Regions from separate parts of the Homo sapiens genome. Here all the other regions are linked to region 1. Evidence: fine-mapped expression QTL. A gene starts in region 1. Each other region holds a variant in brackets. All regions are shown on one strand. Distances are between the middles of the regions.

What was found. PIP is the estimated chance that this variant, and not a neighbour inherited with it, causes the effect. A credible set is the group of variants that fine-mapping cannot tell apart.
Region 2: its variant is the best candidate, but not a certain one, in a credible set for the expression of TMEM178A in lung (TOPMed, PIP 0.76).
Region 3: its variant is the best candidate, but not a certain one, in a credible set for the expression of TMEM178A in left ventricle (GTEx, PIP 0.79).

The regions. Positions count from the first base shown.
Region 1 is chr2:39,664,113-39,668,354 of GRCh38, reverse strand. It overlaps TMEM178A (transmembrane protein 178A), which reads right to left and starts at 2,438. Exons shown (of 4, transcript NM_152390.3): 1 at 1,981-2,438. The coding sequence starts at 2,380.
Region 2 is chr2:39,578,605-39,582,846 of GRCh38, reverse strand. The region is part of intron 5 of MAP4K3-DT (MAP4K3 divergent transcript); the gene reads right to left. Among named protein-coding and RNA genes, the nearest start is that of TMEM178A, 85 kb to the left of the region's middle. The variant A/G (reference allele first, on the strand shown) is at 2,514.
Region 3 is chr2:39,526,660-39,530,901 of GRCh38, reverse strand. The region is part of intron 5 of MAP4K3-DT (MAP4K3 divergent transcript); the gene reads right to left. Among named protein-coding and RNA genes, the nearest start is that of MAP4K3-DT, 91 kb to the right of the region's middle. RefSeq lists an enhancer at 3,533-3,592. The variant A/G (reference allele first, on the strand shown) is at 2,294.

The DNA of each region.
Region 1 (4,242 bases):
CATCTAAAAATAGGCATTCGTGACTGGGAAAATCTAGTTCTTTTAACGAGTATATGAGTTCCGTCTTACGGAAGTACTGGGCTAGACAACCATTTGTCAGAAAGATTGTAGAAGGGAATTTGAACAACCAGTAGATGTTCAACTTCAATGACCTCTAAAGTCCTTCCACCTCTATTATTTGACCCTGGACTGCCCTGGAACTGGCACCTCAGTTAGCCAGGGCATTTGCAGAGGCATTGTGCAATATCCTGTGGGGGTCCCCTCTTCTACTGTAGGTTTGACTCTGCCCTGCTGTTTCAGGCATTGCTCTATATCCAATTTACATGCAATCAAATACTCTAAGCATAGAAAGTGTAAGGAAATGCAGTTCTGTCATTTCCAAAGACAGACTACACTGCTTAGCTTTCAAAATTGCCTTGCCTAAATGAGCACTCCATAACTGAGCCTCCACATTCAGCTTTTACAGTTTGTTCATGTACTATGCTACTATCAGAATTAATTATGCAGCATCTTCATGAGGAGAAATCAGATTTGGATGCAAGTTAGGAGAGAAAAGAAAATGGTGCACTTCCCAAAAGATTTTACTGTATCTGGTTCCCCTAAAAGTGCTGGAGTCCTTCCACACGCAGACAGATTTTGGATGGCAGTCCCCAGCTGAGTTAGCCATGGGAAGGAGGAAGTTGACATGTTTGAGAAATGAAGAATCCGCCAACTAGCAAGACTCTGAAGGCCAACACATTATTAACCCCCTCTTTTCTATGTCATTCCATTCCAGGCTGTAACTCAACACAAATCCGTCTGTTTGTTTTCCTACATGGCTACTAAATATTAAAATGTACTGATTTTGGACTTTTTCTTTTTTGGCATCATGAGTCCAAGAGAAGAGATGTTGATTTTTTTTTTTAATCTCAAAGGGGAAAAAAATACATTGAGTCAAGTTCTGAAAGTTAAAGGAAGCTTCACAAGTTGTCACACTGAATATTTTTACGTGAATGGGATTACCAAAAAAAAAAAAAAAATCAAACTATCTGATAGCATTCACAGAAGACAGGTGTTGCACAGATTTCAGAAGAACAAATTGATGCTCTGCAACTCAGTGCCAAACAAAACAAACAACAAAAACAACCTGACAAGGTACCACGAACAGAAGACAGAGTGATAAGCAGAGAGTGAGTGCCCAAATCTGGAAAGCTCTAGTTTAAAGGGCGAGGACATTTTCTCTCCTCAGTGCCTGGACAGCGAGGAGGGTGGGGGTATGGGGTCCTCAGGAAGGTTGGAAAGCAGGTGTCCTATCTGCCTCGGGCAGCCTCCACCAGCCTCCACCAGCCAACGATTGGTCTCTGAAGTCTAATCCACACACACCCTGCACTTCAGGGGTATGAAGGAAGGTTCCGGGGCCTCCTTCGCTGCCCATCAGCCCTGCCAGGCTGGGATGACCACATCAGTTCCGTCTGACACCAGCATCCGCACAATACAGGCAAAGCCCCTTCCCTCTCTTCGGAGGTCGGCACCACTTTTCTTCCAAACGGTATTTCCAAAAGGAGCACAACTTGAAGGAAGGAGCCCGGGTGAGAAAAGTCGAGTCTTTGACGGTTAGTCCCCCTCACGGGGAGCAGCGTCAAGAAAAGACACACATGTCAGGCAGGTGTACAAAGGCAGAGAAGGACGGGGAGAGAGAGAGAACCGGGGAATGGGAGGCGAAGGCAGGAAAGAAGGAGACAGAGGCGGGAGGTGCGGCACGGACTTGAAAGGACGCGCAGGATGTGGACGAAAGAAGAGAGTCAAGGAGAGGGAGAAGAAGGGAGGCAGTGGGGAAAGAAAGGGAAGAGATAAAGACTGGAGGCGGCGGGAAGGATGCAAGAATGCCCAGGCGCGGGGCCGCGGCTGGGAGGGGGCTGCGGGGACCGGCGCGCCCCTGGGAAGCCGCGGGCTGCGCTCCACGCGCGGGCGCCGGGGACGCGGGGTGCGCCCGCCGCTCACCTTTCAGGATGAGGGTGTCGATGTCCCGGTCGATGCCCAGGAAGTAGCACTTCCTCCAGAGGCCCGAGTAGGTGGCGAAGAGGGGCCGGCCGCACTCGGCGTCCAGCCCGCCGAGCCCCAGGAGCGAGCGCCAGGACTCGGGGTCGGCGCGCCCCGGGCCGCCCGGGAGCAGCCGGCGCCCCAGCGGGGGCGAGTCCCGCAGCGGCAGGTGCGACAGCGGCATCAGGCGGTTCTTCTGGTCCGGGGGGTCGGCGCCCGCGCGGCTGCGCTCGCAGCTCTCCTTGTGGCGCCGGGGGTCGGTCTCGTACCAGTGGTCGGTGAAGATGGCCGTGACGAGCAGCCCCAGGGAGCACAGGCTGAGGCCGAGGCTGAGCGCCGTGACGAGCGCCCGCGGCTCCATGGCTTCCCGCCCCGCCGCAGCCGCCGGTGGGCTCGCGCGCCGCCGCCAGACACAATGCACTTGGCCCCAGCTCTCCGCCCGCTCCCTCCCTCTTCCCCCCACCTGCCCCCCACCTCCCTCCTACGGCCTCCTCGCCCTGCGAGCCCGGCCCGGCTCGCTCCCTCTCCCCTGGCCTGATCTCGCCTCCCACCGCCCGCCCGCCCCCGGCCCGGCCCCCGGGCTCCTAGCCCTCCCCCGCGCCGCTCTCGCTTTCTTGCCCCCCTCCTCTTCCCCAGCCCCCTCTCCTCGCCCCGGCGCCCCCCACCCCGCGCACTCCTCTCGCCCCTCTCCCTACCTCCGATCCACAGTCCGCCCTCCTCTCCAGCGACCCCCCTTCCCCTTTTAATCTCTCCTCGCCGCCCTCATCCTCCTCTCTCCCCTTAACCCTGTCCCTACTTTCCCCCGACTTTTCTCCAACTCTTCCTCTCACACTTTCCCCCACTCATTTGCTCCTCTGCTCCCCGGCTCCTGGTGCATTTATATCCCGGCTCTGGACTCGGTGCCTCTCTCCACCTACCCCTCGGCACACCCCTCCCGTCCTCTTCCCTCCAACGACCTTAAAAGACATCCACCGACATAAGACTCACTCTTGTCACTTGTCCAAGTTGATTTTGATCAGTGTCCCGTTTTGTACCCAGGAGCAAATCCCATCCAGGTCGGGCTGCGTGGTAGCGTTTAACTCCTTGGAATCTTGATCTGGAGTCCGAAGGTCCCTTTGTCCTGCCGCCTGCCGCCTGCAGGATGAAGCCTCTGAGACCCCTAGGCAGCCAGCTCTATCTGTCGCGGCTCTTTCCCTCTCACTTGCCCATCGCTTAGCCTCTAAGCATTCTCTCTGCTCAAGCCCCTCTTCTGAAAGAAAAAGACACCGAGTGTCAGTGGAGCGATAGAACGATGACCAGAGATTTTTCTCCCACTTCATTTCAACCTGCTATGAGATGGACTTCTTTTTTCGTTGACTACGTCCATCTCCCGCCAGACTGACTGGCCTCCTGGAATTTCTAGAAGAGCCTGGAATCAATGAACCCTGGCAGTGGCACCTGCTCCATGAGGTGATTATTGCCTTTGCATACAGCAAGCCCCCAGTAATAAATCAAAGTAATGATTTTCTCCTGTGCAGGTTTCCTTCTTGGGCTGGGGGGTGGGGGTCAACAGCAAAGCAATGCTACACACCAAAGTCAACACCTGAGCCTGGGGCAGTTCTTCCATCTTCCAGTCACAGAGGTTACTTCCAAGAATGGCAGGCAGATTCACATTTTCTAAAATGAGGAAACGCTAGGACCCGGGGTGCTAAGAGTTAATCACTTGTGCGGTATAGTCAGTCTATACCACAGAGGTGCAATACACTCGTGCCACTCAATGCCCTTGTGGTCATGTCAGAGACAGAAAACCATGCTGCACTGGCCCAGGGATGAAAATGCTTGTGTTCTTATGCTATGAAATATTAATGATGAAGAAATTATGAGGCATTCATTACATGCTAAATGTCATTACTCCATGATTTAATGGGACTTATTAATTAGTGCCCTACATCAATTGGTATTAATATGCTTTATATCCTTCCTCTAGGATGACATCTGTAAAGGTGGTATAAGGCTCTTGCTGGGATTTATTTTCATTGCTGTTTGTGTTTAGCATCTTCAGAGGGTACATTTCCAGTGAAGATCGTGTGCCTATTCTGAGCGGTTCAGTTCATAGATAGATCACTTAAGCAAATCTTTCAGTTATATCAGACCCGCATTCCCATTTCTGCTGACCTGACAGTGTGAATTATTGCTTGGATTTTCTCACAGTTTCAGCAAGGTCTATGGTGAGCTCTAGTCTAA
Region 2 (4,242 bases), 86 kb after region 1:
AGCTTCTGCCACAGCAAAGGAAACAGTCAACAAAGTGAAAAGACAACCCACAGAATGGAGAAAATATTTGCAAACAATCTCTCCTATAAAAGGTTAATAACCAGAATACATAAGGTACTCAAACAAATCAATAGCAAAAAGCAAAAACAAATACTCTGATTTTAAAATGGTCAAAAGACCCAAATAATCATTTCTCAAAAGAAGACATACAAATGGTGTTATAAGCAACATAAAATGAACTAAGACAAAAAAAAGGAAAAAAAATTTTTAAGTAAAAAATAAGAAGACATACAAATAGCCAAGAGGTATACAAAAAAATGCCCAACATCGTTAATCATCAGGGAAATGTAAATCAAAACCACAGTGAGATATCATCTATTAGAATGGCTATTACTAAAAAGACAAAAACAAAAAAACAAAAACAAAAACAAAACAGAGGCTGGCAAGTGTGTGGAGAAAGGGGAATGCTCATACACTGTAAGTAGAAATGTAAATTAGTATGGCCATTATGGATAATGGTATGAAGGTTCCTCAAAAAACTAAAAATAGAACATATGATACAGTAATTCGACTGCTGGATACATATTTTTAAAAAGTAAATCAGTATATCAAAGAAACATCTGTACACTCATGTTTATTGCAGCCCTATTCACAATAGCAAAGCTATAGAATCAACCTTTGTGTCCATCAGTGGATGAATGGATAAAGAAAATGTGGTGTATATACACAATGGAATGTTATTCAGCCGTTAAAAAAGAATGAGATCTTGTCATTTGCACCAACATGGATGGAACTGGAGGATCTTATGTTATGTGAATAAGCCAGGCACAGAAAGACAATGTTCTTATTCACATGTGGGAGCTAAAACCTGGATCTCATGGAGATAGAGAGTAAAACTGTGGTTATGAGAGGCTGAGAAAGGAAGAGGGGAGAGGGGAACAAGAGAACTTGGTTAAGGGTACAAAAATATAGTTAGATAGAAGAAATACGTCATAGCATTCAATAGTATGGGAGGGAAATTATAGTTAACAATAATTTATTGTATATCTCAAAAAAGCTAAAAGAAAAAAATTGTAATGTTCCCAATACAAACAAAGATAAATGAAGTGATGGATATCCCAATTACCCTGATTTGATAATTACACATTGTATACATATATCAAAATATCACATGTGCCCCCAAAATATGTACAACTATTATATATCAATAAAAATCAGGACATTAATATTGATATAATTTTTTTTGAGACTAAGCCTCACACTGTCACCAGGCTGGAGTACAGTGGCGTGATCTTCGCTCACTGCAACCTCCGCCTCCCGGGTTCAAGCAATTCTCCTGCCTCAGCCTCCTGAGTAGCTGAGACTACAGGTGCGCACCACCATGCCCAGCTAATTTTTGTGCTTTTAGTAGACACGGGGTTCCACCATGTTGGCCAGAATGGTCTCGATCTCTTGACCTCGTGATCCACCCATCTTGGCCTCCCAAAGTGCTGGGATTACAGGCGTGAGCCACCACGCCCTGCCAATATTGATAGAATTTTAAAAAGAAGGTAAAGGTAATGTTTATTTGAAAAGGGTAAGGAGGAAATGCAAGAGATCATTGTCAGTTGGTTATCTTTATTCTGACATCTGCAAGTCCTTGAAGGCATGAACACAGAAGAGTCTAAAAATGATCAGTTATCGGGGGCACAGTTCCAAGATGGCCGAATAGGAACAGCTCCAGTCTATAGCTCCCAGGGTGAGCGACACAGAAGGCAGGTGATTTCTGCATTTCCAAATGCGGTACCGGGTTCATCTCACTGGGGAGTGTCGGAAAGTGGGTGCAGGACAGTGGGTGCAGTGCACCGAGCGTAAGCCGAAGCAGGGCAAGGCATCGCCTCACCCAGGAAGTGCAAGGGGTCAGGGAATTCCCTTTCATAGCCAAGCAAAGCTGTGAAAGACGGCACCTGGAAAATCAGGTCACTCCCACACTAATACTGAGCTTTTCCAATGGTCTTAGCAAACGGCACACCAGGAGATTATATCCCACGCCTGGCCCAGAGGGTCCCACACCCACAGAGCCTCACTCATTGCTAGCACAGCAGTCTGAGATCGAACTGCAAGGTGGCAGCGAGGCTGGGGGAGGGGTGCCTGCCATTGCTGAGGCTTGAGTAGGTAAACAAAGCGGCCAGGAAGCTCGAACTGGGTGGAGCCCACTGCAGCTCAAGAAGGCCTGCCTGCCTCTGTAGACTCCACCACTGGGGGCAGGGCATAGCCAAACAAAAGGCAGCAGAAACCTAGGCAGACTTAAATGTCCCTGTCTGACAGCTTTGAAGAGAGTAGTGGTTCTCCCAGCACGGAGTTTGAGATCTGAGAATGGACAGACTGCCTCCTCAAATGGGTCCCTGACCCCCGAGTAGCCTAACTGGGAAGCACCCCAAAGTAGGGGCAGACTGACACCTCACACAGTAGGGAACCCCTCTGAGATGAAACCTCCAGAGAAACGATCAGACAGCAACCTTTGTTGTTCAGCA[A/G]TATTCGCTGTTCTGCAGCCTCCGCTGCTGATACCCAGGCAAACAGGGTCTGGAGTGGACCTCTAGCAAACTCCAACAGACTTGCAGCTGAGGGTCCTGACTGTTAGAAGGAAAACTAACAAACAGAAAGGACATCCACACCAAAACCCCATCTGTACGTCACCATCATCAAAGACCAAAGGTAGATAAAACCACAAAGATGGGGAAAAAACAGAACAGAAAAAATGAAAATTCTAAAAATCAGAGTGCCTCTCCTCCTCCAAAGGAACGCAGCTCCTCACCAGCAATGGAACAAAGCTGGATGGAGAATGACTTTGACGAGTTGAGAGAAGAAGGCTTCAGATGATCAAACTTCTCCGAGCTAAAGGAGGAAGTCTGAACCCATCGCAAAGAAGTTAAAAACCTTGAAAAAAGATTAGACGAATGGCCAACTAGGATAACCAATGCAGAGAAGTTCTTAAAGGACCTGATGGAGCTGAAAACCATGGCACGAGAACTATGTGAAGAATGCACAAGCTTCAGTAGCCGATTTGATCAACTGGAAGAAAGGGTATCAGTGATTGAAGATCAAATGAATGAAATGAAGCAAGAAGAGAAGTTTAGAGAAAAAAGAATAAAAAGAAACGCACAAAGCCTCCAAGAAATACGGCACTATGAGAAAAGACCAAATCTACCTCTGATTGGTGTACCTGAAAGTGATGGGGAGAATGGAACCAAGTTGGAAAACACTCTGCAGGATATTATCCAGGAGAACTTCCCCAACCTACCAAGGCAGGCCAACATTCAAATTCAGGAAATACAGAGAATGCCACAAAGATACTCCTCGAGAAGAGCAACTCCAAGACACATAATTGTCAGATTCACCAAAGTTGAAATGAAGGAAAAAAGTGTTAAGGGCAGCCAGACAGAAAGGTCGAGTTACCCACAAAGGGAAGCCCATCAGACTAACAGCTGATCTCTCGCCAGAAACCCTACAAGCCACAAGAGAGTGGGGCCAATATTCAACGTTCTTAAAGAAAAGAATTTTCAACCCAGAATTTCATATCCAGCCAAACTAAGCTTCATAAGTGAAGGAGAAATAAAATCCTTTACAGACAAGCAAATGCTGAGAGATTTTCTCACCACCAGGCCTGCCCTACAAGAGCTCCTAGAGGTAGCACTAAACATGGAAAGGAAAAACCGGTACCAGCTACTGCAAAAACATGCCAAATTGTAAAGACCATCAATGCTAGGAAGAAACTGCATCAACTAATGAGCAAAATAACTAGCTAACGTAATGACAGGATCAAATTCACACATAACAATATTAAGCTTAAATGTAAATGGGCTACATGCTCCAATTAAAAGACACAGACTGGCAAATTGGATAAATAGTCAAGACTCATCAGTGTGCTGTATTCAGGAAACCCATCTCATGTACAGAGGCACACATAGCCTCAAAATAAAGGGATGGAGGAAGATCTACCAAACAAATGGAAAACAAAAAAAAAGGCAGGGGTTGCAATCCTAGTCTCTGATAAACCAGACTTTAAATCAAAAAAGACCAAAAGAGACAAGGCCATTACATAAGCGTAAAGGGATCAATTCAACAAGAAGAGCTAACTATCCTAAATATATATGCACCCAATACAGGAGCACCCACATTCACAAAGCAAGTCCTTAGAGACCTACAAAGAGACTTAGACTCCCACGCAATAATAATGGGAGACTTTAACACCCCACTGTCAAC
Region 3 (4,242 bases), 140 kb after region 1:
AGAAATAGTATAATTTCACCTTGCTTTAAGCAACCCTGATCTTTAAAATCCAAGCAAACAGATAAATCAGTAAAGAATTCTTCACTTTATAAAATGTCTCACCACAAGATGGCCTTAAAAGTAAACTCCCAGATTAGTACATTTTAGGTGGAATTTGACTTACAAAAAAAGTGGTTTATATGCATCATTGAAGCAGCACATCTACTATGTAAAGTCAGATATCCTTGTAGTTGATCCAAAGTCATAAATAAAATAAGCAGTCATCCTTCACCAGCATTATTCAATTGAGAAATCTGGAAAGGCAATCTAAACAACAATCTTCCTGTCAGTGGCTATATTATTAGACTGCAGCTTTTCAGTTTCCTGTATGTTGACAGGAAGCTGATCTCCTGAAGGAGAAAGAATACCCACGGGATCATTTCTTCAGCCCCATTAAATGTGAGTCAGGGCCAGTATGTCTGCACATAGCTATTTCAACTGCAGTGAAGAGTTGAAGTAACAGATTGGTATGATTTCCAGGAAAGTTCTAGAATGAAGTATTAATATTTAGATAATGATTTGTGAACACTTAGAAATTAAGAAGTGATTATTCAGAGTTAGTGTAAGCTAACTAAGAAAACGATATCCTATTTTTAAAAAGACTTACTATACCAGTAAAGTTGAGAAATTCCATAGATGAAACATACCCAATTTTGGTGACATATTTCATTAAGTCATGAAATCATCATAGAAAAGGTGAAAAAAATATATATGTGCTCAGTGAAAATGCAGTTATACAGATTTGTATTTTCTTCAGTGGCCAAATTAATGGCTGACGAATAGACCCATGTGAACCTACAGGGAGGTTCCTAGTATGTGTCACAGGGCTTAGCATTTTAGCAATGCCTGGGGGAAAGGTTTGAAAAGCCCTGTTATCAAGATCACATAGTATCTTGGAAGCTGGAAGGCTAACATTAGAAAGCAGAATCTGGATTAGAAAAGTTTTCAGTAAGACAGAAGAATCAAAACAAACAAATAAATATAATTTAAAAGGGATAAGTGTAAAATTTTACATTAAGAATTTTATGGTTGGTCACAGTGGTGCACACCTGTAAATCCAGCACTTTGGGAGGCCGAGGAAGGCAGATCACTTGAGGCAAAGAGTTCGAGACCAGCCTGGCCAACATTGCAAAACCCCATCTCTATTAAAAATACAAAAATTAGCCAGGCATAGTGGTGCACGCCTGTAGTCCCAGTTACTCAGGAGGCAGGAGAATTGCATGAACCTGGGGGATGAAGGTTGCAGTGAGCCAAGATTGCACCACTGCACTCCAGCCTGTAAGACTGTAAGACCCTGTCTATAAGACTCTGTCTTTGTATCAGGATGTATAAACCAAATCCATGATTTAAAGACCACTCAGCCTGTAAGACTCTGTCTCAAACAAAAAGACAGAGAGAGAGAATTTTATATAGAGACAAAATCTGGCTTGATGGAAGGTCATCTGACAGAGAACTAGGTGTTTTGGTAGGCCACAGATTTTATATGGGCCATTAATGAAATATGAATGTTAAAAATTATAACAAAAAGCTAATAGACTCTTGGCAGTTAATACTTATTTTCTCCCAGTTTATCAAGGGTTCTTATCTTCTTTATACTTTTCTGGATTTTCCAAATTTTCACATATGTTATTTTTATGAACAGAAAAACTACTCTTAGAATTTGAAAGTATTTTAATAACTGTCCTATTTTAATAACTGTCCTATGGACATTGGAGCAGGCTATTTCATATAGTTTTAGAGGCTGAAACTAGGGAAAACGGCTTGAAGTTATAGGAGACAATTTTAGCCTAAGTACTCAGCTCACCATCGAGTGGGTTCCCATCCCTGGAAGTGTTTACATAACCGTTGGCTAACTACAGAAGTGGCATATCATAGCATAGCATAGCATAGCATAGCATAGCATAGCATAGCACAGCACAGCACAGCACAGCACAGCACAGCACAGCACAGCACAGCACAGCACAGCATAGCATAGCATAGCAGTGAAAATCTCTGGCTCTGCCAAACTGCCTGGGCTTGCACCTTGGCTATGCTACTGACTTAGACGAGGCATGGTCTTAGATGAGGCATTCCACTATTTCGTCAGCTATAAAAAGGGCATGATAGTAACTGTATTTGTCCATATGGTCGCTAAGGATTAAAAGGATTCATCTGTATCAATATCCTTAAGACAATAACTGGACTATGCTCAATAAACATTATTATCATCTGTCAGAAGTGGTACATAAAGAATCTCTGCCTTGCTTGAGAAACT[A/G]GACTAAATGATTACCAAAAGTTACCTCCAATTTCATTATCTTATTGTTCTAAGTCAAGGAGCACCCTTCCTCAGGTGGCACTGTCTTATTACCTAAGCCTGTACTCCTGAATAGAACCCTGATAATAACAAAATTATTGCAGGAGAGCAAAATATATTACAAAGGAAGTGTCCAAAAGCTACTCAGCATCTCATACATTTCATTACCCAGAATAGGAAGCAGGCCCAGTGGTGGCACTGGACATATAAACCAAATCCATGATTTGGCCAGGTGCGGTGGCTCACGCCTGTAATCCCAGCACTTTGGGAGGCTAAGGCGGGCAGATTACGAGGTCAGGAGATCAAGACCATCCTGGCTAACATGGTGAAACCCCATCTCTACTAAAAATACAAAAAATTAGCCGGGCATGGTGGCGGGTGCCTGTAGTCCCAGCTACTCGGGAGGCTGAGGCAGGAGAATCGCTTGAACCTGGGAGGCGGAGGTCGCAGTGAGCTGAGATCGCACCACTGCACTCCAGCCTGGGCGATAGAGAAAGACTCTGACTCAAGAAAAAAAAAAAAATCCATGATTTGAAGTCCCAAGGCCTGGACAAAGGGTAGGGTGAAGAAGAAGAAGAAGGAGCCAAAGGAATACAGAAAACAAACGTCTGTACTTATTGATGTATTTATTTGTTCATTCATTCAACAAATGCATTTACTGAGCACTTACTATGCACTAGGCACTGTACTGGTTCTAAGCCCCGGAAACCAGGCACAGTTCCTGCCCTAATGGAGTCATATTCAGTGGGAAATATATTTCAACCAAAAAATGACACCAAGAAACATAAAATGACAGTTGTGATCAGCACCTGAAGGAGAAGTACCCAGGGCCATATGGTAGAGAGTTGCCCTGGTCAGAGAGGTCAAGAAAGACAGCCCTGAGGAAGCCATAACTGAGCTGAGATTTGAAGAAAGGGTGAAACTTACAGAAGTAAGTGCATTCTGGACAAAGAGCAGTTGGTGAGAGGAAGCGTGGCAGGTAAAAAGAACTGAAAGAGGCCGAGCGCGGTGGCTCACGCCTGTAATCCCAGCACTTTGGGAGGCTGAGGCAGGTGGATCACAAGGTCAGGAGATTGAGACCATCCTGGTTAACACAGTGAAACCCTGTCTCTACTAAAAATACAAAAAATTAGCTGGGCGTGGTGGCAGGCGCCTGTAGTCCCAGTTACTGCAGAGGCTGAGGCGGGAGAATGGCGTGAACCCGGGAGGCGGAGCTTGCAGTGAGCAGAGATCGCACCACTGCACTCCAGCCTGGGTGACAGAGCGAGACTCCATCTCAAAAAAAAAAAAAAAAGAAGTGAAAGAAGGCCACAGTGGTTGGAGTAAAGAGAGCAAAGCAGAGCATGGTTTGATCTAAAGCTGGCTAGGTACAGGGCCTATGGTCATGTTAAGGAATGTTGCATCCTAAAATCATGGGAGGGCATGCAAACATTTTAAACATCTCAGGGAAGACATGAAAATCAGATGAAGAACTCACTCAGCATACATTGTGGGAGGTGGAGGTCAAAACAGTGGCAGATAGACCAATAAAGAGGCTTTTAAGGTTATCCAGGAAGAGGTGAAGGTAGCTTAGACTAGGATAGTGGGAGTGGAAGTAGGGAAAAAAGTACAGATTCAAAGAGGTTTAGGAAGCAAAATTGAATGTGAAGGGTAAGGCAGAGGGAAAGGTCATGGTGACTCCAAGTTCTGGCCTGCTTAACAATGCGGGTGACATAGGGAACAGCAAAAGGTTTTGGATTAATCAAGAGTTTGGTTTTGGCTATGTTGTGTTTTAGATGCATGTGAAACTTCCAGATGAAAGTATTAGGTAGGAAATTGGATACATGGATCTAAAGCTCAAAGAAGAGACCTGGGCTGGAGAAACATTTTTGCCATGAACGAAGTATAGAATAAGAAAAGAAGACGGCCAA